Regions from separate parts of the Homo sapiens genome. Here all the other regions are reported to be linked to region 3. Evidence: microRNA targets listed by miRTarBase, many of them from high-throughput screens and not tested one by one. Region 3 holds a microRNA gene; each other region holds the end of a gene's coding sequence.

Region 1 (10,440 bases), not on the chromosome of region 3:
TGTGTGGCCTTGGGGGCACGATGTTGTGTGTGTGTGTGTGTGTGTGTGTGTGTGTGTTTGTGAAGCACTCATACTGCAGAGCTAAATGGGGTAAGGTGTGTGTGTACAGCTGAAGCCATCGTTTTGCGAAAGCATAAATCAGAGCATGTTGCTCTGTTTTATCTGTCACTTCACCAAAGGTGGGGTAAGAGTTGCCCCCACTGCATGGGGCTGTGGGGATGTGCAGAGCATCTGGTGAACAACAATTCCTCAGAGAAGTTAGGTGCCACTGCTATCATGCTGCTAATAACACAAATGATATCCACTGCCCAGTGGAAAGTCCCGAATAACCAGTTCACTAAGCACAACACCGTTTCCCAAGAGGTGGGGGGGTTGGGGAGACCTTGCCACCCTTTCCTTTCCTCTAGCACGATGCCTGGCACACAGTAGGTGCCTGCAACACATACACAGATGACTTACGGAATGGCAGCTGGTGGAGGGTCAAGAATTAGGCATTCTAGATCCAGCCTTGCCAACAGAACCAAACACCCCATGGTCTGCAAGGTCTGATTGACTGTCTTGCTAGGACCTCATTTCCCTCTCCTCCCTCTCCCTGGTAGTTTCTGGGTCACAGCACCTTTCCCCCCTTCTCAGGGCCTTTGCACTTGCTATTCTCTCTGCGTGGAATGTTCTCTCCCCCACTTCCCCTCCACTGCCCATATTTTGATCTTTGCCTGATTCTATCCTTTTTGTCCTTCAGGCTCCTCAGAGAAGCTTTCTCTGTTGCCTTGTGCAAAGCAGTTCCCAGGCTCTCTGTTTATTACTTTGTTGTAGCACTCATCAGCAACTGAAATGATATGACTTCGGTGTTTATTGTCCGTCTCCTCTGCCATTCCTCTGGAATGGCAGTTCCACAAAGACCAGGGCCTGGTCTGTCCTGCTCCTCAGTTTACCCCGAGTCTAGAGCAATATTAGTGGAAGAATCCATGATGGAGGATTAAATGAAATAGTCTAAGTAGGTCGAGTGCTTAACACAGTCCTGACTCATCGAAAGTGCTCGCTTCATGGCACTGCTTAATACTGTTGTTATTGTTACTGTATTTCCTCCGATACCCATGACCCTTCCAGCCAAGCAAACATGTAGCTTCTTCCTTCCGCCCCTTCCCTTGGGTTCAGCCTCTGCCTTCCTCGGCTGCTCCCCACTCCTTTTCTCCCTGTTCCAGTCGTGGCCTGATTACAGTTTCGGATTTCCTGCAGAAAGGAGAGAGTCCACAAAATTGTAAAGGGAAATGACTAAATTGGCCTTCAGATGGAGCAGTAAAAATGCTGTAAGTCAACACGGAAGATCAAACTCCTTTGGCAACCATCCCATAATTATCCACCAGCTTGACTCTTGGTGGGGTGGGAGGAAAGAAAATGATTCTTACGCATTTATTAATGTTTTCCATCTGTTTGGAGCCCTGCCGAAATGTGGCTTAGTGCTGCAGTGAAAGCCTGGTTGACAGAGCCTGTGATTGGGCTCTGAAGTCCAGGCCCTGGCAGGATGATGGCCCAAAATGCAACATTCAGGCCACATGGCATGGGCAGGAGGAATGGGGGTGGAGGCCCCAGAGCCCAGCACTATGCCTGGCGCAGAGGATGTACTTGGAATACGTGAACAGATGATTTATGAGGTGACAGCTGGTGGTGGAGGACCAAGGAGCAGGTGTTCTAGATCCATCTTTGCCCTGTCTCACTCTGTGGCTGGGCACATCCCTTAGACTCTCTTTCTCCATCTAAAACATGAGAGTAAACATGTGTTCCTTCTTGACCCACAACCTTATAGAAGGAAGTAAGGCTTACGAAGTGTGAGGGGGGCTTTGGGTTTTAAAAAGAGGAGTTCTAAATCCCTTGAACCCAGTTCCTCTCCATCTCTTCCAAAGCAATGAAGGCAGGTGTTGAGAATGCTAACTCTGAGGTTCTGTGCAATCTTCAAAAGTCTTCAGAGGCATTCAGGAGCAGGGCAGGAGGGGGAGGAGAAAAAGGGGAAGTGGGGAAGAGAGGAGGAGAAGGAGGATGGGAGAAACTCTGTTTACCTGAGAGTAGGTTTAGGGCAAACATATCTGTTTCGTGTAATGTTGGGGACAGACTGGAATTCCAGCCCTTATTCTGAGACTCCTTATCTATGTGACTTTGGACAAGTCACTTGACCTCTCTGAGCCTCATCTTCCTTCTGTGTAAAACAGGATGACAATGGTTCCCACCCCGTGGACGAGGGGGCTATGAGGATGAAATGAGGTAATTCATGTAAAGCTCTGAGCAGAACGTCTGGAGAACTGCAATTCTCTGTAGAAGTGAGGTGCTGCAATTGTTACACTATCAGCAAGGCCGAAGATAAGTCCAGTGCCCATTGGGAAGTCCCAGATAATGAGTTCATTAGGCGCAACAGCCTTTCCCGAATTGGGTGTGTGGGGAGACCTTGCCACCCTTCCCTTTCTAGCTTGTGCCGCCACCTACTGGTGAAGACAAGAATTACAGCTTCTGGAAAGCTCTCTCCACGACCCCACCCCTCACAGCCCCATCCTCACTCCTGGGATGGGTGGGAGGCACATTGGCAGGGAGTGGGGAGGCAAATCCAAGCCCCCAGTTCTGAGGCCACGATTAGCTTGCAGAGATTCCTGAAGGCTTGTCGACCCCAGTGAGAAAATGTGTCCCAAGTCTTATCCATTTCACTTTCTGATGATCCCTGGGACAGGCCCCTGGTCCGGGCCACCACCCTCTATTCCTGGATGATATGGCAGCCTCCTCACTGGCCTCCCTTCCTCCACTCCTTCCCACAGCAGCAAGGAATTTTCAAAACATGCAGCTCTGGTCACCTTGCCCCCAGCTTAAATCTCCCAGTGTGTCCCCTGCCCTGGGACAAAGTCCAAGCCCTCTGCCCAGCTCACAAGGCCCCTCGGGCTCTGACCTCCCACTCAGCCCTGTTACCCATCCTCTGCCCCTTCCAGGCCTTGTTCATGCTGTTCCCTGGCCTGACATGCCCTTCCCTCCCTTCTTTGCCTGGTGAGCTCCTACACACTCCTGAGGGCTCAGCATGGGTGCTGCTTTCTCCAGGATGCCTTCCTGGATCCCCCAAGGCTGGGGCAGCGGTCCTGCAGTCTTTCCCCTTGCCAAGCCATGTCGCCTCTGGATTTGTATCCCCTGCTAGACTGAGTGGGAACGGTGCTGGGTTTTCTTCACTGCAGCATCCCCAAGCCTGCCGGACTCTTGATGCATATCAGGTTTGCTGAGTGATGAAAATCTTGGCGATAAAGACCCAACTCTTTACAGCTTGAGCTGACCTGGGGGTCCCTATAGTGGCCACAATGTCCTGAAAATGACGTTGAGAGTCTGACAGGTGTTTGCCACTTTTGTAACACCCACCCAAGAGGGGCCTAGTGTGGCTGGCTCGAGAATGCAGTCTCCTTGATGGGTTATGGGGGTACAATGATGGCTACTTGGGCTTATCTTCTGACTTATTCTGGGCATCTGAGGAAGGAGTGGGAAGCTGGAGTGGGGCATGATCCCTAATCTTTGCCTTGTGTTCCCTGGTGTGGAACAGCACGTTGCCTCTTCCATGGGCTCCACATGGCAGTGGCAAGTGCAGCTCCCCCACTCTGAGCTCTTTCTCCTTGAGAACTGATCCCTTTTATGACAACAATTCCTGCAGACCTGGAGGTCTTATCTCCCAGCCCAGGCTCAGGCTCAGTCCCATCCAGCTGGCCATGCCCACCACCTCTCTTAGGATGGGTACCCCAGGATCCCACTTCGGGATAGGGATTGTCGTGTAGGTGATTTGTTAAGGACTGGCCCCTGGGGACACTGGTAAGGGAGTGGAGGAGCAGGATGGGAAAGGGGAAAGAGGTAAGCAAAGGGACACTTTCAGGCAAAGTCCCAGTTCCCGCCTGATCCCTCTGGGAATCCTGGAGTGTAAATTGCACCTCGTGGTCGTCATCATGCCCCAAAATAAAGAGCTGGCCTTTCACGTTCCCATACCTGCCAGTCATTAGCTAAGGACCATCCTGGGGTGGTGTACACACCCCCAGCTTCCTGGTCTGTCTTCTTTGCACTTGTGCTCAAAGAATGTATGAGTAGCCCAAGGGCAATTCTCCAAAGAAGAGTTCAGACTGACCATTAGTAACAAAATCTGGGAAAGGGCACCTGGGACGCTTCCCTGAATTCTCTGATTGAGCCAGTTGACATGTTCTCAGTCTTCTTTGAAGTGTTGTGCAGTGCAGTTTCTGGAAAAGTCCATGTGTCTTCTCTTCAATGAGGCAGCTACCCCATGTCTTAAAATAGTGGCCACTGCCAAGAGCCCTCTGCCTAGCCCTGGTCCCTGCTCATGAGCTCATTTTAGAGGTCTTTATATGTTCTTTAAAAATTTTACAAGGTACTCCTGCTTGTTGTAAAGTGAAATTTCCGAGCTCTCAAAGGTGTTTATGGTCATCATGAAAATTTCATGCCACCTTCATTCCCAGAGCAGGTTTCTGGGCAGATGTTTTTCCAGGTAGTCTACTGATGTGGTTGGAAGTGGTTATTCAGGCCTGCCAGCATGCTCCCGCTTTCATCCGTGAGGGTGAGCTGGGGTGGGTTGGGCAGGGAGTGACAGAATTGACAGGATGTCTGGATGGGCACCTTCTGACTTCCTCAGCCAACCCTGAGCACGGCTCCCCGCCGGCTCTTTGAATTTTTTTTTTTTTTTTTTAGATGGAGTCTCGCTCTGTCACCCAGGCTGGAGTGCAGTGGTGCAATCTCGGCTCACTGCAATCCCCGCCTCCCAGGTTCAAGCGATTCTCCTGCCTCAGCCTCCCAAGTAGCTGGGATTACAGGTCAGTGCCACCATACCTGGCTAACTTTTATATGTCGGCCAGGCTGGTCTTAAACTCCTTGCCTCAGTTGATCCGCCCACCTCGGCCTCCCAAAGTGCTGGGGTTATAGGCGTGAGCCACCGCACCTGGCCTGGACCTTGATTTTGATATCACTGCAATTGTAGCCCGTGTCCCACCTGCCGTGGCCCCTGGTGGAAGGTTCACACACACTATTGTCTCTACCCCAGGCTATCTTGGCACATTTGAAGTGCTCCCTGGCCCCAGGACTTGGGAGCTGTGAGTCTCAGACCACTGGTGGGCATCTGTGCTTGGGCAGAGGGTTTCTTCTCCATGAGGTGTAGTGTCCCCAGCACATGCTCCAGGAGGCTGAGTAGCAATGCTTTCTGCCCCCACGACCTCCTTTCAAGACTTAGTCTAGAGCCTGGGAACTGGGCCCTTCTCAGAAACCTCAGGCAGGTCTTGACACCGTATCCTTGGGCCTTCCCATTTCAATGTGCTCCTGCCATTGCAGCTGGCATTGCCATCTCTTGGCTGGGGGCTTGCTGTGAAGCCACAGAGGGCCACTCTTCCCTAGGCAGGGCAGACAAGAAGCACCTAGGAATTCATATCATCCCCAACACCAGAAGCCCTCAACAAACCACTAGTGGGAGTCGGTGTGTAAATACCCCAGCTCCCTCACTCCCGGGTGGAGTATCTCCAAGGTGCATGTTCTACCCCGATTCCTAGAGCTTCGGGTGGGAGTCAGCTCCAGTCCCCACAGGGGTAGCTGGGTTGAAACCATACCCTTCACTGGCTGCCTTCCCCTCCTTCCCTTTGCCATCTCACTTCCCTACTTCTCTATTGGTGTTTCCCACAATCACCTCCCAAATATACTGGCTGCCCTTGAGTCCTTGTCTCAGGGTCCGCTCCTGGGGCGGAGACAGCCCGGCTGCCTTCCCTGAAGCCTGCAGCACAGCCTGGCGGCTCCTTCCAGCCAGGTTCAGATGTGCCCCTCCTCTCCCACTCCTGCTCTGGACTTGCTCCAGCTCTCCTTCAGACAGAGGGTGATGACAGTATTTCTTGCATCCTGTCCCTAGCTCCCTCTGTTCCTGTCCATCCCACATGTTATGCAGGAACTGAGGATTCTCTCAGGCCCATGGGAAATCCTAGAAACACAGCTCCCTCCCAGCTGCCTAAGGGGGAGCCTGAAGCTGTCACAGACCTGTCTGAACCCATGGCCCATGCTGAGTCTGGAGCAGTTCAATCCCAGGGAGAAACGTGGCCACTGGAGTGGTCAGAAAGCTCATTCAAAACCAGCAAAAATAAAATTTAATTGGGCTCAAGTCTGGGCAGTTTGTCCTTCCTCAGGACCAGCCGTCAGCAGTCCCTGACGAAAGCACCCCATTCTCTCCACAGACAGCTGGTTCCAGAAGGACCCTCTGAGGCTGGTCTTCCGGGTAGGATGTGCTGTGGGAGGGTTCTGTTTCCGAGGAGGAGAGGCGCGACACAGCGTGCAAGGACCTGCAGCACCTTCCACGCAGCACCCCCTGCTCCTCCTCCTCAGCCCCTGCCGGGCTCTGACTCCTAAGTCAGGCAGGAGCTTCTTCAGGCCCCTGGCTGAGGAAGAGCCACAGCCACCCTAAAATGGCTTCGGGGGCATGCAGCCCTCCATCTCCAGCAGCTCTGGCCATCCCTCGTATTTGTTTGTGTCTGGGCTGTTCTTTAAGAACTAGAGAGAGAGAAGACAGAGAAATATAGGCAGTGAGTGAGGCTGTTCAGAACTCATGCCCACATGGACACTGTGCTCTAAACCTAAATGGGGGTGTGGGATGTTATTAACCCACTTCACAGATGGGGAAACTGAGGCTCAGAGAGGGGATGCAACTTGCTCAAGATCTCAGAGATGGGATCAGAGCCCAGTTAACTGCTCTCACGCCCTGAAGGGTAACCAGTTGTTGGAGAGATCTGGCCCCTCCCCACAAATTCTCTGTGTCCCTCTAGGATACCTCAAATAACAATAATGATAGCAACAATAAAAAGAAGACTCCGACCATGTCTTGAGCGCTTGCTGTATGCCACGTGGTGTTCTGCAGGGCCTTATGTATTTAATCTGCACAGTGGCCCTAGGGAGTGTGCACTGTTTACATCCCATTCTACAGATGGGGAAGCTGAGGCACAGAGGGTCACTGCCCGTAGTCACTGGCTGGTAAGTGGCAGAACCACCACATAATATTAATTAATACTAATAATAAGGGGTGGGGTGCAGTGGCTCACACCTATCATCCCAGCACTTTGGGAGGGTAAGGAAGGAGGGTCACTTGAGGCCAGGAGTTCAAGACCAGCCTGGGCAACATGGGAGACCCTGTCTCTAGAAAACATAAAAAAATTAGCTGGATGTGGTGGCACATGCCTGTGGTCCCAGCTACTCAGGAGGCAGAGGCGGGAGGATCGCTTGAGCCCAGGAGGTCGAGGCTGCAGTGAGCCGAGATTGTGCCACTGCACTCCAGCCTAGGTGACAGAGCGAGACCCTATCTCTAAAATATATATATACTAGTAATAAGTATGTAAGAAGAATAAAATCACTTAGGATTGTGTCTAAAATGCTCAGGTTTGGATTATGAAAGAAAAAAACGTAAATGGCAAAATCTGCTGTTGGAATCATTGTGGCTGACTCTCAGGAATTAAAAAAGAGATTCTAGATGCTACCTGCCTAAAACCCAGTTTCCCAAGTGTGAGGACTAAGAACAGACCGGCTTAGTCCCATTAGGGTGCTTGGTTCATTTTTGTGTGTCGGTCCCGGCCAGCTGGTTGCAGATGGATGAAGATGATGCTGGGCTTCCTGTACTCCCACGCCTCCTCTGTCTTGCCGGTTCCCCTGGGTCTGGAGCCCACGCTTTGGGGCAGGAAAGCACCACCTGCCCATGCAGCCTCAGACCTCTTGCCTCTTGCTAGGGCCCTGCTGCAGCACCCCCACAGGACATTCGGGAACCACACCCGGCCGCCCCCGCCCACCGGCCTCCTGCGTTCTTCACTGCGTTCAAGTAATTTCTAGTTACCCAAATACATCCTCTTAGAAACACACGCATACAGACCAAGACCACATTTTCTAGCTTAGGAAAGAAATCCTCCCATCCCAGTCCTGGTGCCCTTCCTAGAGCTCAGCACACGGTTCCCTGCACCTGCCCCCTCCAGCACCTCTTGTCTGATGATGGCATCGGCCTCCTCCCTGCCTTCTGACTTCCCTCCTCGTTTTCTCCATGCCTCGCCAGGGAGGCTGAAGGGATGGGGACAGGCATCCTGCTCCTTTCCCCGGGATCCCCTTCCCCGCCACACAGCTCCATGTCTCCATTTCTTTCTCGTTCCTTCATGCCTCACTTGCCCATCATCCTTCTTTTCTCCTTTTCCCTCTTCCTTTTCTGATAATTATCTGTATACCTGCGTATCTATATATGACCCAGCTTTTGCGAAATGGCCAAGGCAGCTTCCTGGCCAATCAGACCACCCTGGCCTTTGGAGTGAATGACAGCCAGGGGCCTCTCCCCAGACAATCCTCCCAATTTTAAGGCCCCTGGGAGGTGAATGGGTGACTCCTTCCTACCACCACCCAGCTCCTCATGCATCCTTCATAGGGCCGGGTTGTGGCCCAGAACCCACCTGCTCAAAGGGGCTTTTACCCCTGAGGTCTTTGGCTCCTATGAAGACCCAGCTGTCCCGGAAGCCCAGTTGTTTTGCGTAGGAACTCCCCAAGTCAGAGAAGAGTTTCCTGCTTTCATCGTTCATTCTGCAGAGGACCAGAGAGGATGGTCAGGATGCGGGGGTGGGTCGCAGGGGCATCAGGTGGTGGGATTCCCATGGGGCAAGGTTCCCACTCTTCTCCCCATTCAGCATCTGCCCTGGGGGTGTCCAGAGAACGTGGCTGCACTCAGGAAGGACAGGGTAAAGGGCTTCAAGACTTCCTCTCTAAAAGGGCTTCAGATGGGGCTGGAGATGTGTTAAAACAGTACTGCTCTATTTACAAATACAATACACATTCATTTGGAAAATATGGAAGATCACAAAGAAGTAACTAAGAAATACAGTCTCACCCCTCCTCCCCTTAGTGTGATCAGTGTATGTATTTCCATACAGTGTTTTTTTTTCCCCTCACTTAGCACTAGAGGGTGAGCGATTTTCCACGTCCTTAAATACTTTCCGCACCATCATTTTTGATGCAGTCTATCTTCATTTGTGTATATATCATATCCTATGTCACCGTATGTCATAGTTTCTGTAGCCAGTCAGCTGTTATTATTGGACAGGGAGAGGGTTTCCAGTTTTTCACTGTGGTAATGAAGGCTGTGATGAACCTCCTAGAACATTTCTTTGCATACTTGTCTGATAATTTCCTCGAGATAAGTTGCCAGAAAATGGATCTGGCAAAAGAGCAGAAAAGGGTGTGCAGGGTTTGAAGGTATTCAGTTTGCATCACTGTGTGGCCTGGCAGGTAGAGTTTTCTACTTACTTGGTCCCTGGATCGTCGTAGGAGGCCACCAGCACCAGTGCACCCCCCGGAATTTCTTTAAGGAATTTCACTAGGTGCATAACATCTGGGGGAGGAAGGAAAAGGTGCTGGTGATTTAGGGGAAATGAGCCCTGGTCATTCTCATGCTTGTCTACTGCCCCATGATGCAGGAGTCAGCTAGGCCCGGTGGACACTGGGCTGAGCTCAGAAGCCAGGAGGAAGAGCATCCCAGGTGGAGCTCCCTGTAGCCCTTGTCCTAGGGGAGGGCAGAGTGACCAGAGTGAGGGGAACTCATCCAGGTGATGTGGGGTGGCTTCTGGACACTGGAATTTAGAAATTCCCCTCGTGACAGGGATTTGCAGCTGAGGGTGACCACCACTGGTAGAAGGGCCCTTGTGTGCCTACCCCTCTGGGGACGAAGTGCCATCATCTCTCAGGTGCTCTGGGCCCTTTGCATACCCCAGACCCCATTCTACGCTGGACAATGCCCAGATTATCTGTGCTGACTTTAGGTGGTATAGCACGTGGCCTCAGACAACTGAGATCCCTGGGAGAGAATTCGAGTAGACTATGAATACAACTCTCCTGCTGTGTCAAGGAGCAAGGCTCTGCGTGTGTCTTTAATGCCTCCCTAACTTGCCAAGCTCTCTATTTAACAGAGAACAGCTCTAGGTTTAGCACCTGGGGGAGGCATCAGCATCCAGCTCACTGTGAAGAGGCTGATTTGTTTCCCTTGTGATTATTATTATTATTATTATTCTGACACAGAGTTTCTCTCTCGTTGCCCAGGCTGGAGTGCAATGGCGCGATCTGCGCTCATTGCAACCTCCACCTCCTGGGTTCAAGCGATTCTCCTGCCTCAGCCTTCCAAGTAGCTGGAATTACAGGCATGCGCCGCCATGCCTGGCTAATTTTGTGTTTTTAGTAGAATTGGAGTTTCTCCATGTTGGTCAGGCTGGTCTCGAACTCCCAACCTCAGGTGATCTGCCTGTCTCGACCTCCCAAAGTGCTGGGATTACAGGCATAAGCCACTGTCCCAGGGCCCTCCATTGTGATTATTTTTATGGTCACCTTCCCTGCATAACAAGTGATAATAGCTTTCCATTTAAGGCAGTAATATAGTTTCCTTTTAAG
Region 2 (9,530 bases), not on the chromosome of region 3:
TCTCCATTTGTGCATTGATACACTTGATAACTAACATTCATTGAGCACCTACTCTATGTACTCGGCCCTTGTAATTCATGTTCCCATGTAATTCTGACAACCCCATGAGGTCAGTATTATCATCACAGGGTTTATGGGTGAGGAGACTCAGGCTCAGAGAGATGTTACTTGCCTAAAGATGTAGTTAGTGGCCAGGCGTGGTGGCTCACGCCTGTAATCCCAGCACTTTGGGAGGCTGAGGCGGGTGGATCACGAGGCAGGAGATCGAGACCATCCTGGCTAATATGGTGAAACCCCGTCTCTACTAAAAATACAAAAAATTAGCCGGGTGTGGTGGCGGGCGCCTGTAGTCCCAGCTACCCCGGAGGCTGAGGCAGAAGAATCGCTTGAACCCGGGAGGCGGAGGTTGCAGTGAGCTGAGATGGCGCCACTGCACTCCAGCCTGGGCGACAGAGCGAGACTCCATCTCAAAAAACAAAAAACAAAAACAACAACAACAACAACAAAAAGATGTGGTTAGTAAGTGGCTGGGTCAGATCTGAAGCCAGAGGCAGCCTGCCTTGGAGTTCATGTGCGAGAACACATTCTGCAAACCTCAGAGCCACATGTGCTATGGTGATGATGATGACAAGGACAAGGACTTGCCCTTTGTGTGACCTGAGCCCTGCCTCCCTTTGACCTGTCCCCCTGCTGGGCTCCAGTTCACAGATGGGGCATGTGGACTCAGCCAGTGAATGGTGACCTCTTGCCCTCCCCTCCCCAGAACCAGGCCGAGGCACATTATAAAGGCCACAAACACGCCAGAAAACTCAAGGCTGTCGAGGCTGCCAAGAGCAAGCAGAGGCCACACACCCAGGCCCAGGATGGGGCTGTAGTGTCCCCAATCCCAACGCTGGCCAGTGGAGCCCCTGGAGAGCCACAGAGTAAAGGTCAGTCCTGAGCTCTTCTCTTTCCCACGTCTCCACTCCAAATCTGGTTTCCGACAAGGGGTTGAGAGATTTCTGCTTATTCTTTTTGCTTGTGTTGGAGTATTCCATACAGACAGGCAAAGGCACACAAGTGTACCACGCCATGAATTTTCCTAAGCTGAACACACCCAGATCAGGAAACACGTTACCAGCACCTCAGAAGCTTGTCTTGCACCTCCTCCTGGTCATTACCTTGAAGTATTCATTTCCAAGGGCTGCCTTCACAAATGACTTCATTTGTGAAGTTAGGAATGGTGGCTCACATGTTGTGATGGTTAACACTTTGGGAGGCTGAGGCGGGAGGATTGCTTTAAGCCTGGAGTTTGAGACCAGTCTGGGAAACATGGTGTGACCCTGTCTCTACAAAAAATTTATTTGCCAGGCATGATGATGCACACCTGTAGTCCCAGCTACTCAGGAGGCTGAAGCAGGAGGATCTGCTTAAGCCCAGGAGGTCGAGGCTGCAGTGAGCTATGGGTGACAGAGCAAAACCTTGTCTCTAACCTCCCCTGCCCACCCCCACCCCCAAAAAAAGAGACTACAACCTGGGTGACTGAAAACAACAAAAATTTATTTTCACACAGCTCTGGAGGCCAGAAGTCTGAAATCAAGGCGTTGACAGCATTGGTTCCTTCTTGGGGGCTTAGAGGAGAAAGTGTCCCATGCTTCTCTTCTGGCCTTTGGTGGCTGCCAGTATTCCTTGGCACTCCTTGGCTTATAGACGCATCACTCCAATCTCCACCTCCATCTCCACATTCTCCCTTGTGTGTCCCTGTGTTTCCACAAGCTCTTTTTATAAGGGTACCAGTCACTAGATCAATCCCACCCGAACCCAGCATGACCTCATCTTAACTAATTTTATCTTCAAAGACCCTGTTTCCAAATAAGGTCACATTCTGAGGTTCCAGATAGATGTGAATTTTGGGGGAGACACTATTCAACTAACTACAACCCCTCTGATGGTAAATACGATCCTGACTTTTCTCAGCATAGATCAGCTTTACCTATTTTTGGTGAAACATAGAGTGTGCAGGGGTTTTTTTGTATCTGTTTTGTTTTGTGGGTTTTTTTTGTTTTGTTTGTTTGTTTTTTGAGACAGAGTCTCGCTCTGTCTCCCAGGCTGGAGCACAGCGGTGCAATCTTGGCTCACTGCAACCTCTGCTTCCTGGGTTCAAGCCATTCTCCTACCTCAGCCTTCCAAGTAGCTGGGACTACAGGTACCTGCCACCACGTCCAGCTAATTTTTGTATTTTTAGTAGAAACGGGGTTTCACCATATTGGCCAGGCTGGTCTCGAACTCCTGACCTTGTGATCCACCCACCTCGGCCTCCCAAAGTGCTGGGATTACAGGCGTGAGCCACCCTGCCTGGCCGGTATCTAGTTTTTATTCATCTCTCACAAACATTCATCAACATTCATTATATCTGTAAGATTCATCCATGTTTTTGCGTGTAGCTGTAGTTTGTTCTCTTTCATTGCTGTGTAGTACTCCACCGTGGATCATACCACTATTTTTTTTTAATTTAAATTCTTAAAAGCTCTTTTTTTTTTTGAGACAGGGTCTGGCTCTGTCACCCAGGCTGGAGTGCAGTGGTGTGACCTAGGCTCATCCACCTCCCTGGCTCTCAAGCGATTCTCCTGCCTCAGCCTCCCAAGTAGTTGGAACTATAGGCATGTGCCACCATGCCTGGCTAATTTTTGTATTTTTAGTACAGATGGTGTTTCGCTGTGTCACCCAGTCTGGTCTCGAAGTCCTGGACTCAAGTGATCTGCTAACCTTGGCCTCCCAAAGTGTTGGGATCACAGGCGTGAGCCACTGCGTCTGGCCCATACCACTGTGTTTTTTTTGTTTGTTTGTTTGTTTTTGAGATGGCGTTTCACTCTGTCGCCCAGGCTGGAGTGCAGTGGTGTGATCTCAGTTCACTGTAACCTCCACCTTGCAGGTTCAAGCGATTCTCCTGCCTCAGCCTCCCGAGTAGCTGGGATTATAGGCATGTGCCACCACGCCTAATTCTGTATTTTTAGTAGAGATAGGGTTTCACCATGTTGGCCAGGCCAGTCTCGAACTCCTGACCTTAGGTGATCCACCTGCCTCGGCCTCCCAAAGTGCTCGGATTACAGACATGAGCCACCGTATCCAGCCCGCACCATTGTTTTTTAAAAATCTGCTCTCCTGTTGGTGGACATGTGGGTAGTTTCAGTTTTATGATATTATGAATAGTGTTCTCTGAACATTCTAGTACATCTTTTTTGGTGATCTCTGTTTAAGTTAGCAAATAAGGATATGAGGGCTGTGAGGGCTTTCTGAGACCACTGTGTCCAACTTAATGATTTCAGATGGGGAAACTGAGGCCCAAGTCTGCCCAGTGAGTTGGTAGAAAAGTGGGGCCTGGAATTCAGTGCTGGTCATCCACCAGGGGCCCTCCAGGCCACCTCCATGGTCAGAGCTGAAGATCGTGGTCTGCAGCGTCATCTTGGGTCTCACACTCTTCCATCTCTGCAGCAGTTCCTGCAGCCCCTCCTCTTGGGCCTCCACTCCAGCCACCACCAACTCCAGACCCTACATGCAGGGAGCCAGCCCACTCAGAGCTCTTGGATGCTGCCTCCTCATCCTCTTCTTCCTCCTGCCCACCTTGCTCCCCAGAGCCTGGGAGAGAGGCACCGGGGCCTGAGCCAGCGGCAGCTGCCGTGGGAAGCAGCATGAGTGGGGAAGGCAGGAGTGAGAAGGGGCACCTCTACTGCCCCACGTGTAAGGTGACAGTGAACTCGGCCTCCCAGCTTCAGGCTCACAACACAGGTCAGTAGTCCCAGGAGCTGGAGCCCAGGGAAAGGGTGGGACAGAAGCTAAGCCTCGCCAGATGAGGGCAGGCTTGAGTTCCTGGGTGCTTCGCTCAAGGGTTGGATGGCGGAGGCTTTGTGCTTGTGTGTTACTGAACGGACGTTTCTGGGTCCTCCCATTACTCCTTGGGGAAGGAGAATTGGGAAGAGAAGTCTGAGGCAGCAAGAACTGAAGGTCGCTAAATCTCTGAAGGGTCACTCCACAGGAGACAGGAGACATCTGCCTCTCTCCTTAGATTACACCCAGAAGGAAAGGACTGAGATCAAAGCAAAGGGGAAGGCAGCTATTTGTAGTGCAGAAAGGCCTTTCATAGGAGGGGCTGGCATGAAAGGACAGAAGCTGGGAGGGGAAACCACGTGTGGCTGGAGGGCGATGTGTGCACAGAGCAGCCGTGAGGCTTACAGGGAGAGCCAAATTGCATGAGTGTGGAGGGGGTCTCTGTGGCCCCTGCAACCCCTTCCTGCTGCTGAGAGACTGCCTTCTTCCCTCTCCAGGAGCCAAGCACCGGTGGATGATGGAAGGTCAGCGAGGGGCTCCCCGGAGGAGCCGGGGCCGCCCGGTGTCCAGGGGAGGTGCCGGACACAAAGCCAAGAGAGTCACAGGGGGCCGGGGCGGCCGGCAGGGGCCCAGCCCTGCCTTCCACTGTGCTCTCTGTCAGCTCCAGGTCAATTCAGAGACCCAACTGAAGCAGGTGGGAGAAGTGAGGCTGTGACTGGGGTTGGAGCCAGGGGAGGGGGTTGGGGGGCAGGGCAGCAGAGGGAGGGACCCTGAAGAGAGCAGGCAGGGCACAGCAGAGCAGGCTGGAGAAGCGAGGCCAGCAGGCCAGTGGGCCAATTAAGGGCAAAGGCCAAGACTCACCTCCCCTTCCCAGGGCCTACCCCAGGGTGAGGACCCAGTCTGTGTGCTTTGGATGTATGAGCTGTGGATAGAGGAAGGGGAAGAGTCGAGGATGATGGTCTTGGGGTCCTTGGGCTTTGTCATCTTGTTCCCAGTCTGTCTGTCTGTCCATTAGCACATGAGCAGCAGGAGGCACAAAGACCGCCTGGCCGGGAAGACCCCCAAGCCCTCCAGCCAGCACAGCAAGCTGCAGAAGCACGCAGCGCTGGCTGTGAGTATCCTCAAGGTATCTGTCTCCAGGCAACAGAGCTGGGACTGGGTCAGGAGGGGAGAGGGTGGGCTGGGAGGGCCAGATGGGGGGGCTGCGGTGGGGCAGGAAAAGAGGCCACCCTGCAATGAGGCTGCTGGGCAGTGACAGAGCTAGGCCTGGGAACTGGGATCTGCGCAGAGGAATTTCCGGGGAGGTGGGTTGGGATAGTCATCTTAGGGGCAAGAGTGAGGGGTGGGCGTGCATCTCCTAGAGACCATCTCTATCCCGTAAATCCTCCTCCCTTCTCCCATGCTGAGACTTTCCTCCCTCTGGACAGGAAGACAGGTGGTGGAGAAAGCCCTTCGGAATGAATGTTTGGGGGTGGGAAGGGAGGAGGATTTAGGTTTGGAACTCTAAAAGGCACGCTTTCCCTGCAGCAAAAAGCTTGAGGATGGGCCCCAGGGAGGGGGTGGGGTTTTCTGGGGTGGAGACTGTGTCCATTCCTTTCTTTTCCGTGTAGTCTAAACTGGCCTTGCAGAAGCAACTCACCAAGACGTTGGCAGCCCGCTTCCTGCCCAGCCCGCTCCCCACCGCAGCCACTGCCATCTGTGCTCTGCCAGGGCCCCTGGCCCTCCGCCCTGCCCCTACAGCAGCCACTACCCTCTTCCCGGCTCCCATCCTGGGCCCAGCTCTGTTTCGCACCCCAGCAGGAGCTGTCCGCCCTGCCACAGGACCTATCGTCCTTGCCCCTTATTAGCCCTCATGGGGAGGCCAGAGCTGATTTCCCAATAGCCACTCCTTGTCTCCTCCTGTCCTGAGACACCTTGGTTTCCTACATGCCACAGGGACTGTGAACAGCTTCAGGGGTCCTGCCCGATCCAGAAAGAGCTGGGCTAGTTTTAAGGGCAGCTGCCTTCCAAGGACTGTCCCCACCCTCCTTTCGCAGGCCTTCCAGGGTTAATCCTAGGCTTGCCTGCATTTCCCACCCTGACAGACCCCAAAGATCTATGCAAAATCTCAGCCCCAGCCATGTGGTGCTCTCACTTTCCTCCACCCAAGACCCACATGGCCAGACTCTAGGAATCTTAGCTTCTACAAGCCATCCTCTCCTAGCCAGGGGACGACTCTCTGACCTCTATTCCTAGGCTTTGGGGCTTCACTGGAGATAGGGATGGGGTCTCTAGCTGCAGCAGGCTCAAGGCTGTCAGGACAAGGTGACCATGGGAGTGTGACAGAGGACCATGGAGGAGAAAGGGGGACCCAAAAGTCCTTCGATCAGCAGTGCTAAGGTGGGGCAGAGCCAAGGAGGTAGTGGGGCTGGTTCTGAAAGCTTTTGGGGGCTTCATCTGCTCTGAAGGGGTGGGACTAAGAGAGGAGGTGATGTTCTGGTTGGGCCCAGGGTTTTGTTTTAATCTTAAGTCTTCTGGGCATTCATGGGCCCAGTCTTTTTTTCTGTCTGAGAGTATCATTCTGTTGCCCAGGTTAGAGTGCAGTGGTGCAATCTTGGCTCACTGCATGCAGCCTCTGCCTCCCTGGTTCAAGTGATACTTGCTGATAAGCCCAGTCTTAATATTGAGGGAGTAACTCATCCCTCAGAAGCTCTTCTTCTTAGCCTTTCTCTGACTTCCTGAACCCCAACTCTTGGAGGGCGGGTGTGGGTCTCCCTCAGACTATGGACTCAGCTAACACCGAACCCCCCGCAGAGCTCCCAAAGGAAGAGCTTTCCCCTACAGCTTCCCACTCCAAACTGGTCCTAGCACTAAATTCAGCTTTCCCTTCTCCCAACCAGCCCCTGCCACTGTGAAGCTGAGTGTTGGGAGGCAGTCTCACATGCACTGGCAAGACCCATTTTCATGCTGTCAATGTCAATGTCACAAACTCCTTTCCACTGCAGCACTGCCCCCTCCCCACCCCACAATATGGGACCCTGCCAGTATCCCCCTGTATCTTTTTTTTGTTTTTTAAAGACATTTCCAATGGGAGAACCAGAAAAAGGGGGAGGGGAGGGAAACTTTTTGATAACAATTGTGGTTTTATTGTGTCCAACCAATGCATCAATAAATGAACTTGAAGCCCAAGCCTGTGTGTGTCCTAATTCCACTCACCCAGCCCCGGGCACCTGCCCCACTCACCTCTGGCTTTGAGAAGGGGCGTGTGTCGGTGGTTGCCTGGCTGCAGTGTCTCACCTAGGCTAGGTGTGCACCTTAGAAGCACAAAGCGGGCACAGTTGTGGGTAATAAGCTTACTCTGCAGGCCGCTGGGTGTGTGCCCACCCTCCTGAGCCCCGAAAGAGGACCTGTCAGCTCCTGAGAGGCTGCTACGGGTTTGCCTTGTTCTGTTCAGGCATCTGAGGTAAGAAGGAGGGGCCAGAGGAGCACCTTGTCCAGCCTTCACCATGAGAGCGGGCATATAAATATAAATACAGGTAACTTATAAATAGAAGTCCAGCTCTGAGCTGAAAACCACAGGCAGGATAAAGAGCAGCCTCCAAGAGCGAGGCTGGCGGGCTGGGCACTGAGCGGCCACTCTGGTGACTGACAGCAGGTAGTGCACTCCTGCCCCCTGGTGGCTGGAGGGAGCGGCAGATCCCAGCCTCCAGGGCTGGTTGGCATAGCACCTTAAAGAGGGAGAAGCCATTGGCTTTACGAAATCAAGAGAACTGGAAAGGATCTAGGAGATCATCTAAGCAACTCTGGTCATCTTACAGATGAGAAACTGATGCCCAGAGAGGGGAAAGGTCTTGCTGGGTCACAAAGTGGGCTGGTGACTCATAGCCCAGTTATTCTATTCCATCTCAACCAGTGAGGCCCATCTGCTCCCTGAGCAGGAAGAGGAAGTAAAACAATTGGTAGGGGTGGGGAATTTTTTTTTTTTTTCTTCGAGATGGAGTCTTGCTCTGTTGACCAGGCTGGAGTGCAGTGGCACGATCTCGGCTCACTGCAGCCTCCGCCTTCTGAGTTCAAGCAATTCTCCTGCCTCAGCCTCCCCGGGTAGCTGGGATTACAGGCATGTGCCACTACGCCCGGCTAACTTTTGTATTTTTGGCAGAGATGGGGTTTCACAATGTTGGCCAGGCTGGTCGTGAACTCCTGACCTCAAGTAATCGACCCGCCTTGGCCTCCCAAAGTGCTGGGATTACAGGGGTGAGCCACTGAGCCCAGCCAGGGGTGGGGGATTTAAAACAGAAAACTACACTCCCAGGAGGCCAACTTCTTCCAGCCAAGAAAAGGACAGGAGAAAGGTCAGGGTGAGGGATGAGGAGACGCCTAATGCCAGTATAGGAGCATATTTGTGTGTGCACAACTAAATGCATACACACAATACCTGGACACCCTTTTTCTGGAGTCCAGGCTGGTGCCATAAGTGTGTGTGTGTCGCTGATGGGAAGCCCAGAGGGTGGGGCCCCTACCTATAATAGGAACTCAGACCCAAGAAGGGACACTGCTGCGTGGTGACTCTGCTTCCTGTCTGGGGCAGCTGGAAGGGACAGTGACCCACAACTGCCCCAGGAGACAGTGGAGCAGATCCTCTAAAAGCTGGGATGGGGAGTAGGCTGGGAGGGCTGAGGAAGGGGATGTCAACCAAGAGTATTTGCACTTCCCAGAGGTGAGAGGGAGCAAAGTGGCTGGGGCGTGGCCTGGCGGGGAGCTCCCTGGCTGACTGGGAAAGACAGCTTGTCCTCTACTTTGCCCTCAACACATCTACCAGAGCCCCAGACACTGAAATGGGGCTGGGATCGTGAAAGAGGAACGGCAGCTCTTCAGCCATCCAAGGAGCCGCTGCCCTTGTTCTTCCGGCTGAGGGGGAAGGCAGACTTGCTCTGGGGTTGCGTCATCTTGCTGGCCAAGTAGACAAAGGGCTCCAGGAGGGAGCGCCGGTCCGCCACTGACACCTCCCACAGCTTCACCTTCTCTGACTTGGCCCAGTGCTGAGCCACATCTGGGTCTACACGCCGCTGCTCCTGTAAGTCACACTTGTTGCCAAGGACCACGATGGTGACCTGGGGAAGAGGGACAGAGCATAGGCCTGTGAATGTACCATAGAACCAGGAATGGACATGGGGGCTGGCAACCACCTAGGAGTTCTATGAGAGGAAAGCTCAATGGCTGATATCTCATCTCTTTCTAGATTCCATACCACTCATTGTGGGGAAGGAGATGGTTGCTTTTTTTCTCTTTCCTCTGTTCAAATTCTGGCCTCCATCTAGCCCTCCTTTTAGGAGTTCTATCACCAGCTCTGTATTGCCCATACATGCTCATTATTAGCAGTCAGTTTCTGGCTCAACAACAGGTGAGGAAGCACTCCCAGAACCCTGCAGCTTACTGTGGGATTCTGGAGAACAGAAGGGCCTTCGTGGCCAGATGCAGTGGCTTACGCCTGTAATCCCAACACTTTGGGAGGCTGAGGCAGGTGGACTGCTTGAGTCCAGGAGTTTGAGACCAGCCTGAGCAACATGACAAAACCCCATCTCTACTAAAAATACAAAACTTAGCCAGGTGTGGTGGCATGCACCTGTAGTCTTAGCAGGGGGCTGAGGCAGGAGGACCACCTAAGCCTTGGGAGGTTGAGGCTGCAGTGAGCTGTGATCATGCCACTGCACTCCAGCCTGGGTGGCAGAGTGAGACCCTGTCTCAAA
Region 3 (10,440 bases):
TTCACTGCTGGAATCCAGGCTTCAGGCTGCGAGACCCGGAAGGCCGCCACAGGGGGCTGCTTCCAAAGAACCCAGTTCGCGGCATTCTACAAGGCGCACAGCACCTGCTGCTCTCCAACGAGGCTGGGGTACAACTAGAGGCGGTTGTCTCCATTGACCCGAGTCCTTCTTGGGGCCCTGGACAGAAGGGAAGAGTGTCCTTACTGGCAGGCAGGGCCTTGCAGCCCAATGCCAGACAATATTACAACTTTTCTACCCAGGAGAAAGAAACACTGAAGAAGGAGGACCTAGCCACTGCCTTCCTGGCTCTAGCACCCCTCCATCTTCCTCACCTTCGTTCTCGACTGTCAAAATGGTCTGCGAGATGCTCCTGGGAGATGCGGAAGTCCTCAAACGGCTGCTGGTAGCGGGATTCAAAGGAGCCTTCCCGGGCTCGGCCATGAAACAGCTGGCCTGAGGCATCTGAGCCCCGCTCCCGCAGGGACGTACCACTGAAGGGACTGAGGTCACCATTCTCCTGCTTCAACGAAGCCAGGTGCACAAGAGGGTCAATGACTCCTCTGCACTTCTAGAGGCTGCTGCCTGGCTCTCCTCCCACCTACCCCAGGCCAGCCCACCCCTGCTGCAGATACCTTGGCAGGGAAAATGTCAATCTTGATCAGCAGGGAGGCCAACTCCAGGTCCTCACTGTAGTTGTTCTTCAAAGGCACTGCTCTGTATCCTAGGAGGAGGAAAAGCCTGGCCCTCAGCCCACGAGGGACAGAGCAAGGGGCCCAGCCCCACCCTGCCAGCAAGATTGCAGGGGCACTGCCTCCAGGAATGGTCCTCACCTGTCTTCAGGCCTTTTACTGGGAAAGTAGCCTGAGCCAGGAAATTCTGGTCACTAAACATGTCTTCCTCATACACCACGAAGCGCAGAAAGGCAAATTCAGGGTTACTGATCTGGAAGTGGAAGGGCTTGGCTGGCCATACAGGGTTGAGTCCATTGTCCACTGTGAAGGCAACGACAAAAGGCTTCAGGTCACCGTGGGAGAGGATGGGATGACTGGTGGGGAGAGGCTTGCAGTGCCCCAGCAGGATGAGGAGGATGACTGGGAAGACAGACTGACCCACAAACTCTGTCTTCTGCTTGGTGCTGTCATACTCAGCTCCAGCCACCTCAATCTCCACAAAAGGACACACAATGCCTCGGCCATTCTTTGGCAGATGTCGGGCCCCCAGCACCTGTAGGCAGACAAAGAAGGGCCTGGGATTGTCCTTCCTGCTCCCTCCAATTCCCCACTGCGGAGGCTCAGTCAGCATCTGTGGAGTGGAGGCAGCGCGCCCTCTGCTGGGCCCCCGGGACACTGCCCATGGAGTCCCTCACGACATCAGGGACCCTAAGCTGTCCAGAGCAGCTGCTGCCTGTAGTTTATCTGAAGTCTGAGCTTTAGCCAAAATTTCCATGTGAGTTTTGCAATCTACTTCATGTTAAATCCATTACTATTTTAACACAGAAATCTTTTAAATGACCTCCCCTTAGGGAAAAAAAAGATCTCATCAGAACAAAACAAGTCATCAGAACAAGTCACACCATGGCTCTGCACGTCCTAGATGCATACAGTGACTGCATGCTATCTTCACCCCTTCAAAGACTCAGCTCAGGCCCCACCCACCCTGACCACCTTGATGCCTGAAAATACCTACTTTTGGAGAACTCAACATAAACAGACTCCAACGGCAAGCAGCCCCTTTCCTACCCTGAAGCCCAGATGAGCAGCACCCACCTCAATAGAGATGGCACATGGCTCCAGCCCGCGGAGGCTGCTCTTGTCAAAGGGGTCGAAGGCCTCATCCCGCATGGTGCTTGGCTGCAGCACGTAGCCACAGTGCCTGCCCGTCATGAAGAGGGCCTGGTTCATCTGCATAGGCTTGTCTGGAAGAGGCAGATTATGGTGTATTCCAGTCCAGCTGCCCCACAGTGCCCCTCCTCACCCTCCTCACAGGGGACTTCCTCACCAGGGGTCTGGAAGTTGAGGGCCACAAGCTGACTGCCACAGATCCACATGGGCAAAGGATCGTAGTTGGAGGAATCCAGTCGCTGGCCCTTGGGGTAGATGCGGGAGAGCTGCAGTCGATTGTACTGAAGGAACTTCTTGCCTTTGGCCTTGTTCACGTATTTCTCAGCCTTGGTTTCCGGGAAGGATGACATGTCCCGGTAGCAAGCACGTTCTGTGCCAATCTCTGGGCCAAACAGGGAAAACACTTACAGAGCCCGCCCACCCAGGAAGTGTTGGGGGGATACCTAAATACTCTTTTTGCACCCACCAGGCCCTCCAGGCACATGCACACCCCGCCTGGGCCCTGGCCCTTACTCTCTTCATCAAAGGGAACAGGCCGGCAGTAGACGACAAGTTCAGAGAGCTCCAGGGCAATCTTCTTCCTCCGTTCCATTATCTTCCCTTCAGTGAGCTGGTGACACACACAAGGCCCTGTAGCCCCAGGCTACAGCCCTGCCCAGGAGAAGGAAGCCCCTGCCAACCTTGGGCATGCCCACACTGCAGGTGCTCTGGGCCCCTCTCCCACCTTCCCCTGTACCTTCCAGACACCACACCCAACAGTAAATGAGGGAGCTCTGTCCTCAGCCTCATCCTGAAATCATCTTTCCTCTTTTCTGTCCCAGAGGACACATTTGCCCTCCAACCCTCTTAGGGGGGGTGGGGGATACAGACTCCTCATCACCACCCATGTTCCCAGTGACCTTCCAGGGATCCTGGAATTGGCCACACTCCCAAATGACACTTTCTGACCATTTATTACCCAGCCTCATGCTGGGGTAAAAATGATTCTTCTGTGTTACCTGTGACTGCACTGGGGATACAGGCCCCTGGCTTGGTTTCCATCTGTGTCCTAAGGATGATCCTCACTGCCTCAGCGCCCCCAACTCAAATATAACCACCCACTCTTCATGGCAAATCTCCATGCCAAATCTCTACAGAAGCCCACTTACAAGCACCCCAACCCATCCTCTCCTGGAGGACTTTCTTTCAGTGGCTTTTTTTTTTTTTTTTTTTTTTTGAGACAGAGTCTTGCTCTGTCGCCCAGGCTGGAGTTCAGTGGCGTGATCTCGGCTCACTGCAATCTCCACCTCACGGGTTCAAGCGATTCTCCTGCCTCAGCCTCCCGAGTAGCTGGGATTACAGGTGCCGGCCAACATGCCCGGCTAATTTTTGTATTTTCAGTAGAGACAGGGTTTCACCATATTGGCCAGGCTGGTCTCGAAGTCCTGACCTCAAGTGATCTGCCCATCTCGGCCTCCCAAAGTGCTGGGATTACAGGCGTGAGCCACCACGCCCGGCCTCAGTGGCTCTTACATTCAGACTCTTCCCTTTTCAGCCTAGACCCCCAGATCCAGTCCTTCAACCACCTGGTATGCCAGCACCTTTTCCTTCTAGGGGACAGCCTGGCAAGCACCCTATCCCTTCTCTATTTGGCTTGCGGGTGCCCTCTCCAAAGCAGCTACAGACCCATCTACCAAATGCACTTGGTGAAAGGGCCACCAAGTAGGAATTCCCTAACCCTTGAGAATACTTCTCTGTTCCCCCAGGCTCAGGGGAAGAGGCCACCTTCTCCAGAAGGCTGGTCCTACCAGCTAAGCTTGGGCTCCATCTCCTCCCACACGCTGCTCGCTCCTTTCAGCCATCTGCATGAGAGCCTGCTCAAACCCCAGTCACCTGTTCTCTCCCTCAAGGACAGGCCCTACAAAGGCTCTGCTTTTGCCATTCCAGACTCCCTGCTGCCCACTGCCATCTAATGCCAGCCATGCTGCTGATGCAGCTCAAAAGTCTCACAAGGGCTATTAGCTGCTGCTGAATCCAAAGGGCACTTGCAAGTTCTTATCGTTCCTGTCTTTACCTCTGTAGCTCTCAACACAGCAGACCCTCTCCCTCACCAGTGGCCTGCAGTCTGTCTGACCTGCCTTTCCTGGGCTCCTTTCCTCGCCCATGCCTTCTCATATGGAGCTTCTCAATCCATCCCAAGTTCTCTTCCTATGCGACACCACCTCATCCCTTCTATGCCTCAGCCCCCACTCCACTCCTGCTTCCAGCCCAGGACTTCTCCTCTTACCTCTGGTCTTGTGTATCCAATTGCCCACTAAGCAGACCCACTTCAACGACCCATCAGTATCTCAAACTCAACACAACCTAAACACACCACATTGCATCTTATGTGTCTGTTTCTTCTCAATCCCTAGCTAAGGCAGGGGCTGTGGCCTATCTAGCATAGGCCATCGGCTGCCCCACTGCTCTGAGGGGGCCTGTGCTGGGAGCTGGAGGCCTCAGCTGCCTGACGGGCCCACACACTGCCCCCCAGAAGGTTCCAGCAGAATCTCACCCTGGCGTCTGCTGTCTGGGCCACTTCACGGATCTTTTTCACCCAGTCCTGCAGCTCCTCCTGTGAGTCGGCAGCAACATCCAGGGACCAGTGGGCCACCGACGCCATGCTGATGGAGAAGACGAAGAGCCGGTTGTTCTTGCCCTCAGGACGGATGGCTGGGAGGGCGAGAGCAGATAACAGCTGGGAATAGACATCTCACCCCCTCCACCCCACTCCACACCGCAGGCACTGGCTCAAATGAGTTCTATCTCATCCCATTTCCTCCTTCCCACACCCCATGAGGGGAAGGACTACTCTGCTGGCCCATTTGACAGATGACGACGCTACAACTCAAACAAGTCACTGCTGGTTGTGGTGGAGCCAGTGTTCCAACTCAGCTCTGACTCATGCTTCTTCCTCAGGCCGTGTCTCCCTCTCCACCCCATCTCCAAGCCTCTGTCACATCCCTGTGGTACAACCCATTAGGCCTGGGGATGTCAGCCAACCAGCAGCATCAACTTTGTTCTGCTGATTCTGACGGGTTCCCCAGTGCCTGGCATAGGTAAACATGCAGGGGTCAAAGCTGACAGTGACAAAGGGAGCCCAGGGTGTCAAGGGGATGTCCAGAGCATGGGGAGAGCTTGGAGTGAGGGCAGACTTTGGGGTTCAGCCATCAGCTTCCTCCCTAGGAGCAGGAAAGAGATACAAAGAAGAATCTCACCCTAGGGAACAGTGGGCAAGAGAAACAGATGGGAGCTCACCAATCTGACAAGCCGGCACATCCAAGACCCCCCGCAGCAAGTCCCCTAGGGGGCTGTTCTCGTCCAAGTGCTGTGGGAAGCAAAGCCCACCAATGGTCAGCATGGCTACTGCATATGTGTGTGAGGGGATATCCGTGTGCATGGGACAAATACATCTTGTGGGTGTACCTGTGACTGCCAAATGTAGCACAGGTATATGGGAGACTACGTGCATGGCCACATGGGCTGTGCGACCAGCCCATGTGACAGGTGTCTGTGCATGCACGTGCGTGCTTGGGACTGTGTGATGGGGGCATGCCAAGGAGAATCTGGGAATAGGGAATGCTGTTACTCAGGTGGTTCTGGTCTTACCTCCCTCTCCGGCTCCAGGGCCACGGGGTTGACCATCTCTTCCACGTAGTTTGATGGGAACCACAGCTGCTTCTTCCCTCCGTAGTCCCCTCGCCACCTGTGGGAGCCACAGGGTGCTGACCTCCAGCAACCACCCCGAACTCCCATGAGGAGGGTATCCTTTGGTAGGGGTTCCCATGCCTAAGCCAGGGTGAGGCAGGCACTGCTGGTGCACACAGGAGACAAGCACATCACAAATGCATGTCTTTGGGGCCCCAGCTCCACTGGGGCCCTTGGACTCTGGGCCTACCACACCACTGGCTTACCAGCCTCCCTCTTGCTTCTCCACATTCTGGATGATGGCGCTCTTGATGAAGGTCAGCTCGTCCTCCCTCTGGGCCTTGTAGTCAAAGAGGGCTTTGACTGCACACTGCAGAGGTGAGAAGCACCAGTCAGAGCAGAAAGGCTCTCCCTGCCACTGCCAACCTGGGGCTTCATGTGCACACACACATGTGCTTGGGCTTCCCTGCCTGGGGTCAGGCCAGTGGGAGATGACACTGCCATCAACAGGCCCTAGTTATAGTTCTTGTTACTGCCCTGCAGGGAAGCTCCAGGACAGATATGATCAGAGAGGCAGGGCCTCTGCCAGTGAAATACCTCGGGACCCAGGTGGAACCTTAAGCCCCACCCTGGGCCACAGGGAGAACCTTGAATCCGCTCCCAGGAGTCAGGGCTGGCAGGCCAAGAAGGCAGGGTCTGCAGTGGCCCTGAGTGCCTCCCCGGGACCTGGAAGCATATGGGGCCTGGATGGGACCCTACCACTCATCTGTGAAGTGGAAAGAAAAACTTCCTTCCAGGTCCCCTGGCTGTGGAGGGGAGGGGGTGAGAAATAGGGCCCAGGCCTTTTTAGAGAAAAAGGCAAAACAAAAAAGAACCTGTGTAACAGGGCTCCATGAGGCCGGGGAATGAGTGGCCAGTGTGCCTCCCAGCTCCTACCCCGCTGCTGCCCAGGAAGGAAACAGGGGTCACCCACAGGAGCAGTTTAAAGGGTCACTGCTGACTTAAGGGGTAGGGGCTAGGGAGTGGGTCGGCCCTGGGAGACCTGCGGTCGCTCACCAACCACACATCTCTCACAACCTCTTGGGCCTCGGAAAACCACAACCACCACTTCTCCACAAAGACCACAGATGGCCCAGAACACAGAAATGAAGCCCCAAGCAGCTGGGGACCCTCCCCAGCTTCCTATGCCCAGAGGCCTGAGCTGTACCTTGAAAGTTGGCATAGGGTTTGCCTCTACATAGAAGCCAGGGTTGCGTCCCTCATACAGGGCCCCGTAGTCAGGCTCCTGGAAACAGGACACAATGGGATATGTTAATGCCCCAGAGCCCAGAGGTAGAAAGCAGCTACTGGTTTCTGGAGCAGCTTCCCTTTCCCCCAGTGCAGCAAACTTGCACCTGATCCACAGGGATCCTTCGACCTCAGTAGAGACGGCTTCAGAGGCCTCAGGCCCGGCCTCACTGTTCCCTTTCCTTTCTTCACATTCTTACATGTAAGGCCCAGCCCAGGATTCTAAAATCTCTCAGGTCCTAAATGCCCAAACTCCCAAGTATTTCTGAGCTATGTGCAGGTGGGCCCTTCACAGACTACCCATATTCAGTGCTTTAGTTCAGTGGCTTGTTGGTTCACTGCTGAGCCCAAAGTCAGGAAAAGCCTTCCCACTCCCCACATTCCTCCTGCCGCTCCTCTCCATCACTTGAGTCCCAGGTGCCAGTGGACAACAGGCCTCTCTCTCCCCAGCCAGCCCTGTCTACTGACGACAGCAGTCTCTCAACTGATCTTCTGGTCCTAGACCCCTTCCTTCTGTCCAGGGCCCTTATCACCAGCTGTGCTGCCATGGGTCCTGACTTTTTCCCTCACTGGTCTCACCTCCTGTGGCTCTGCCCTCCATACCATCCACCAGGCGGAGGCTCCACAACCACTCTTGGGTAGCCTCATCTCATCTGCCCTAGGACAGAGTCCAGGCCAAGCCCAGGTGGATGAGTTTCCACTGTGTGCACCTCTCCCAGTGTGAGCCCCAGAACCTCCTCACTCCACATCTTGACTCATGAGGAACCCTCTGCTTATGTGCCTGTCCCCATCCTTAAAGATGCTGCTCAGATGTCCCCTCCTGCAGACACCCTCCTGGTACCCACACTGTGGCTCCCAGCTGGAGTCAGGGGCCCTCCCACGAACTTCTACAACACACCAGGTCTTGCTGTTACACACATCCAGAGACTGGTAAGATTCTGGGTCTCTCCTGCCTCCCCTGCCATGCCCCGTCTACCACAGCCCCCTCACAGCTGTGCCAATCTTCTCCAGTGCCTCCTCGTTGATGGGATAGCGCAGCTTCATCTTGCGGTATAGCGGGTGTTTCTCATAGTAGCTGATGAGGTCAACAAGGCTGTCGAACTCCGAGTTCCCTAGCATCACTGTCTGGCCCTCTTGCTGGACACGGCAATGCTTGATCTTGCCCTCAGCCCTTCACAAGGACAAAACAGTCACACAGGGTCAGGGCAGCTCAGACCCAAGCAAGGCCCCACAACCCAGTGCCACACCCCTCACCGGAAAGAGATGGCATATGAGTTGGGTTCATTCCGCTTCCGCACCAGGAAGGCCCCATCACGAGGGACGCGCATTAGCATGTGCTCAGCCTGTGCTCTGGTCAGGCTCGCGTGGTACCACCTGAGAACAGGCAGAGTCAGGCCCGGCCAGCACCACCCATGGCCCTGCCCTGCCTTGTCCGCCCCCAGGCCCTTCCCTCACTCTTTGCTCTCGTGGGCGTTGGTCTGTGGGACAGGCTCTGAAAGTCGCATCTCAAACTCATTACAGCGCAGGGGCACCTGCTGGTAGTGCGTGATGAGGTCATAGAGGGAGTCAAAGACGAGGTTGTCTGTCAAGAAGAACTTGGGGGTCCCAGCATCTTGCCGGGAGTGGATACGGCAGTGCTGGACTTTCCCGTTCCGCCTGTGGAAGACACAGAGTGAGGGAGGCTGGGGAAAACAGGCCAGGGCCCCAAAGACCAAGTTCCACCCCAAATGAGGGTGGAACTCAAGGAGGGAGCCTCAAGGAGGGAGGCCAATCTCCTGAGGAGCTCAGGTGTGGGCAGTCACATGAACCAAAGGTGTGGGCTTCAAATGAACCGAAAAGGGAGGGGTATGGGGGGGGGGTGAGACAGAGAGTGTGTGTGTGTATGTAGGTGAAATTATGTTCCATGTAAAGCCTAATTATTGTCCTGGATCAAAGGCTCAAATGTTAACTGATTATCTCTGGGTGATGTGATGTCTGTGTACACACGCTGACTGAACATACGCATCTGCATGGGAAGTGTTACCAGAAAGAGAGCGTGTAGTCGCCCACGAAGGTCTCACTCTCTCGCACGAGGAAGGAGCCGTCAGGGGCTCCGGTCTCGATGCAGTACTCAGTAAGCAGGCGCTCAGCGATGTGACGCCCGTCACGCCCTGCCCCTAGCTTCCCATGGAACCACTTCTCATTGGAGTGCAGCTCTGTGCTGCTGCTGACCTGTCAGGGGAAGGCAACAGCAAAGATACTGTGACCCTGGCCCAGGCCTGACCTGGCCCAGCCCCCAGACCTGAGCTGGTTCCTCACCTCCTTGGGCTCCTCCTCATCCTCGTTGCCCTGGTCACTGCTGGTCTCCTCAGAGTAGTAGATCTTGCTGCTGGTCAGAACAAAGTAGTGGGGATACCATTCCTGGAACAGACCAAAGAGGGACTTGTGAGCCAGGGTCCTCACACCCACTGGCCTACCACCCCCAGCCTGGCCCAGTCCTCACGTGGTTCACAGGGTCCTCCAGGTAGAGGATGCCATTCTTGATAGAGTTGCTGATGTCGTTCTCAGAGTACATCATGGATGTAGGCACCTCCTCGTAGGCACTGCCCTCAGCCAGCTTCTTGTGCTGTAGGGGCAACCAGAACAGGGCAATGCAGACCCCAGTCCTCACCCCACCTCCTCACCCAGGTTTAGGCCCAACAGCTGAAGCCATGGCCTGGGCAAGGCACTGAGAAGTGTGGGGCTTCCGCAATAAGCCCGCCACCCCACCTTGATGAGGATCTTCCTCTTAAGCTGGTTGGGTGAGGGGAGCCCGTCGGCAGAGATCTCCACGGGCTTGGTGAGGAGTGTGTCCCCCAGCACCTTCTTGAAGTATTGGGCCATGTTTCTCTGCTGGGCAATGCTGCAGTGGTCCTCAATGGACAGGATGACTGGGTACCTGCGGGATGGGGGACAAGCACAGTGAAACAGATTCTGCAATTCTCTGGGTCTAAGTAGCCCCTCACAGTGAGCTGTTGGAAGCCAAGGGCCTGGGGGCTTCTTGTCTGTAAAAACTATCCCAGAAAAGAGGCAGGCCATAGCCACTGGTGGGGCAGAGAGGGGTTCTACAGCTGTGGCAGCAGTGGAAACCAAAGGGTGGCAACTGATGCAGTCCCGAGCTGGCCCAATTATGGAGGCTGCTCAGCAGTGCAAGAAAAATGTTTCACACCAAAGAGGCCAGGAGAGAGGAGAAGCCTCCAAAGTTAGCTGTTAGAGCCCTGGTGAGCTAAGGGAGACCAGTGACCACAGTTTAAGCAGTAAACAGAATTGAAGGAATGGGACACAGGGAACAGAGACAATCTTCTGGGCTGTGAGGGCAAAGGAGTTGGCAGGACACTGGCCTAAAGAAACCAGGGCATGTTTTCTGAAGATGAGAAGAGCATGTGTTCTACAGTCTAAAGGACCCATGAAGAAGAGAGTGGGCCCAACACGTAGGAAACAGAAAGTGTAACTTGGGAAGCAACAGCTCAAGCAGGGAGCAGGTGACGAGGAGAGGCCAAGAGGAAGGACAAAGATGAAAGGCTGAGGGAGAGGGGACAGGGCATTTGAGGAGTCTTTCTGCCCTCTGTCCCTCTAGAACGAGAGACCTGGAGCCAAGTTAACCCCTGGGTCATCCAGCCTCCGACTC

Evidence for each region. The annotated mature microRNA hsa-miR-6871-3p reads CAGCACCCUGUGGCUCCCACAG and lies in region 3 at 5,566-5,587, opposite strand. An mRNA with a match to its seed (bases 2 to 7 or 8) in the 3' UTR can be bound and repressed. Matches are read on the target gene's strand: a 7mer-m8 pairs with bases 2 to 8, a 7mer-A1 pairs with bases 2 to 7 and ends in A, and an 8mer does both.
Region 1: miRTarBase lists FAM3D as a target of hsa-miR-6871-3p. Seed matches in the 3' UTR shown: 7mer-m8 at 6,345-6,351 and 7mer-m8 at 6,201-6,207.
Region 2: the mRNA of NKIRAS2 is a reported target of hsa-miR-6871-3p. Seed matches in the 3' UTR shown: 7mer-A1 at 7,506-7,512.

The regions. Positions count from the first base shown.
Region 1 is chr3:58,627,835-58,638,274 of GRCh38, forward strand. FAM3D (FAM3 metabolism regulating signaling molecule D) reads right to left here. Exons shown (of 10, transcript NM_138805.3): 8 at 9,307-9,391; 9 at 8,460-8,586; 10 at 6,112-6,534. The coding sequence ends at 6,445. FAM3D-AS1 (FAM3D antisense RNA 1) reads left to right here. Exons shown (of 4, transcript NR_134853.1): 3 at 4,705-4,826; 4 at 6,222-6,606. Among named protein-coding and RNA genes, the nearest start is that of FAM3D-AS1, 26 kb to the left of the region's middle. RefSeq lists an enhancer at 1,024-1,525.
Region 2 is chr17:42,023,018-42,032,547 of GRCh38, reverse strand. NKIRAS2 (NFKB inhibitor interacting Ras like 2) reads right to left here. Exons shown (of 4, transcript NM_017595.6): 4 at 6,907-8,894. The coding sequence ends at 8,655. It overlaps ZNF385C (zinc finger protein 385C), which reads left to right. Exons shown (of 9, transcript NM_001392013.1): 5 at 764-929; 6 at 3,475-3,765; 7 at 4,302-4,498; 8 at 4,820-4,930; 9 at 5,415-6,972. The coding sequence ends at 5,651. Among named protein-coding and RNA genes, the nearest start is that of NKIRAS2, 7.7 kb to the right of the region's middle. RefSeq lists enhancers at 3,003-3,791, 7,562-7,611.
Region 3 is chr20:41,164,204-41,174,643 of GRCh38, reverse strand. It overlaps MIR6871 (microRNA 6871), which reads right to left and starts at 5,621; the gene lies at 5,566-5,621. PLCG1 (phospholipase C gamma 1) reads right to left here. Exons shown (of 32, transcript NM_002660.3): 13 at 9,543-9,711; 14 at 9,277-9,399; 15 at 9,093-9,194; 16 at 8,818-9,005; 17 at 8,250-8,450; 18 at 8,049-8,168; 19 at 7,785-7,965; 20 at 6,715-6,792; 21 at 5,774-5,877; 22 at 5,469-5,565; 23 at 5,118-5,187; 24 at 4,375-4,532; 25 at 2,355-2,451; 26 at 1,999-2,223; 6 more. The coding sequence ends at 135. RefSeq lists an enhancer at 1,080-1,129.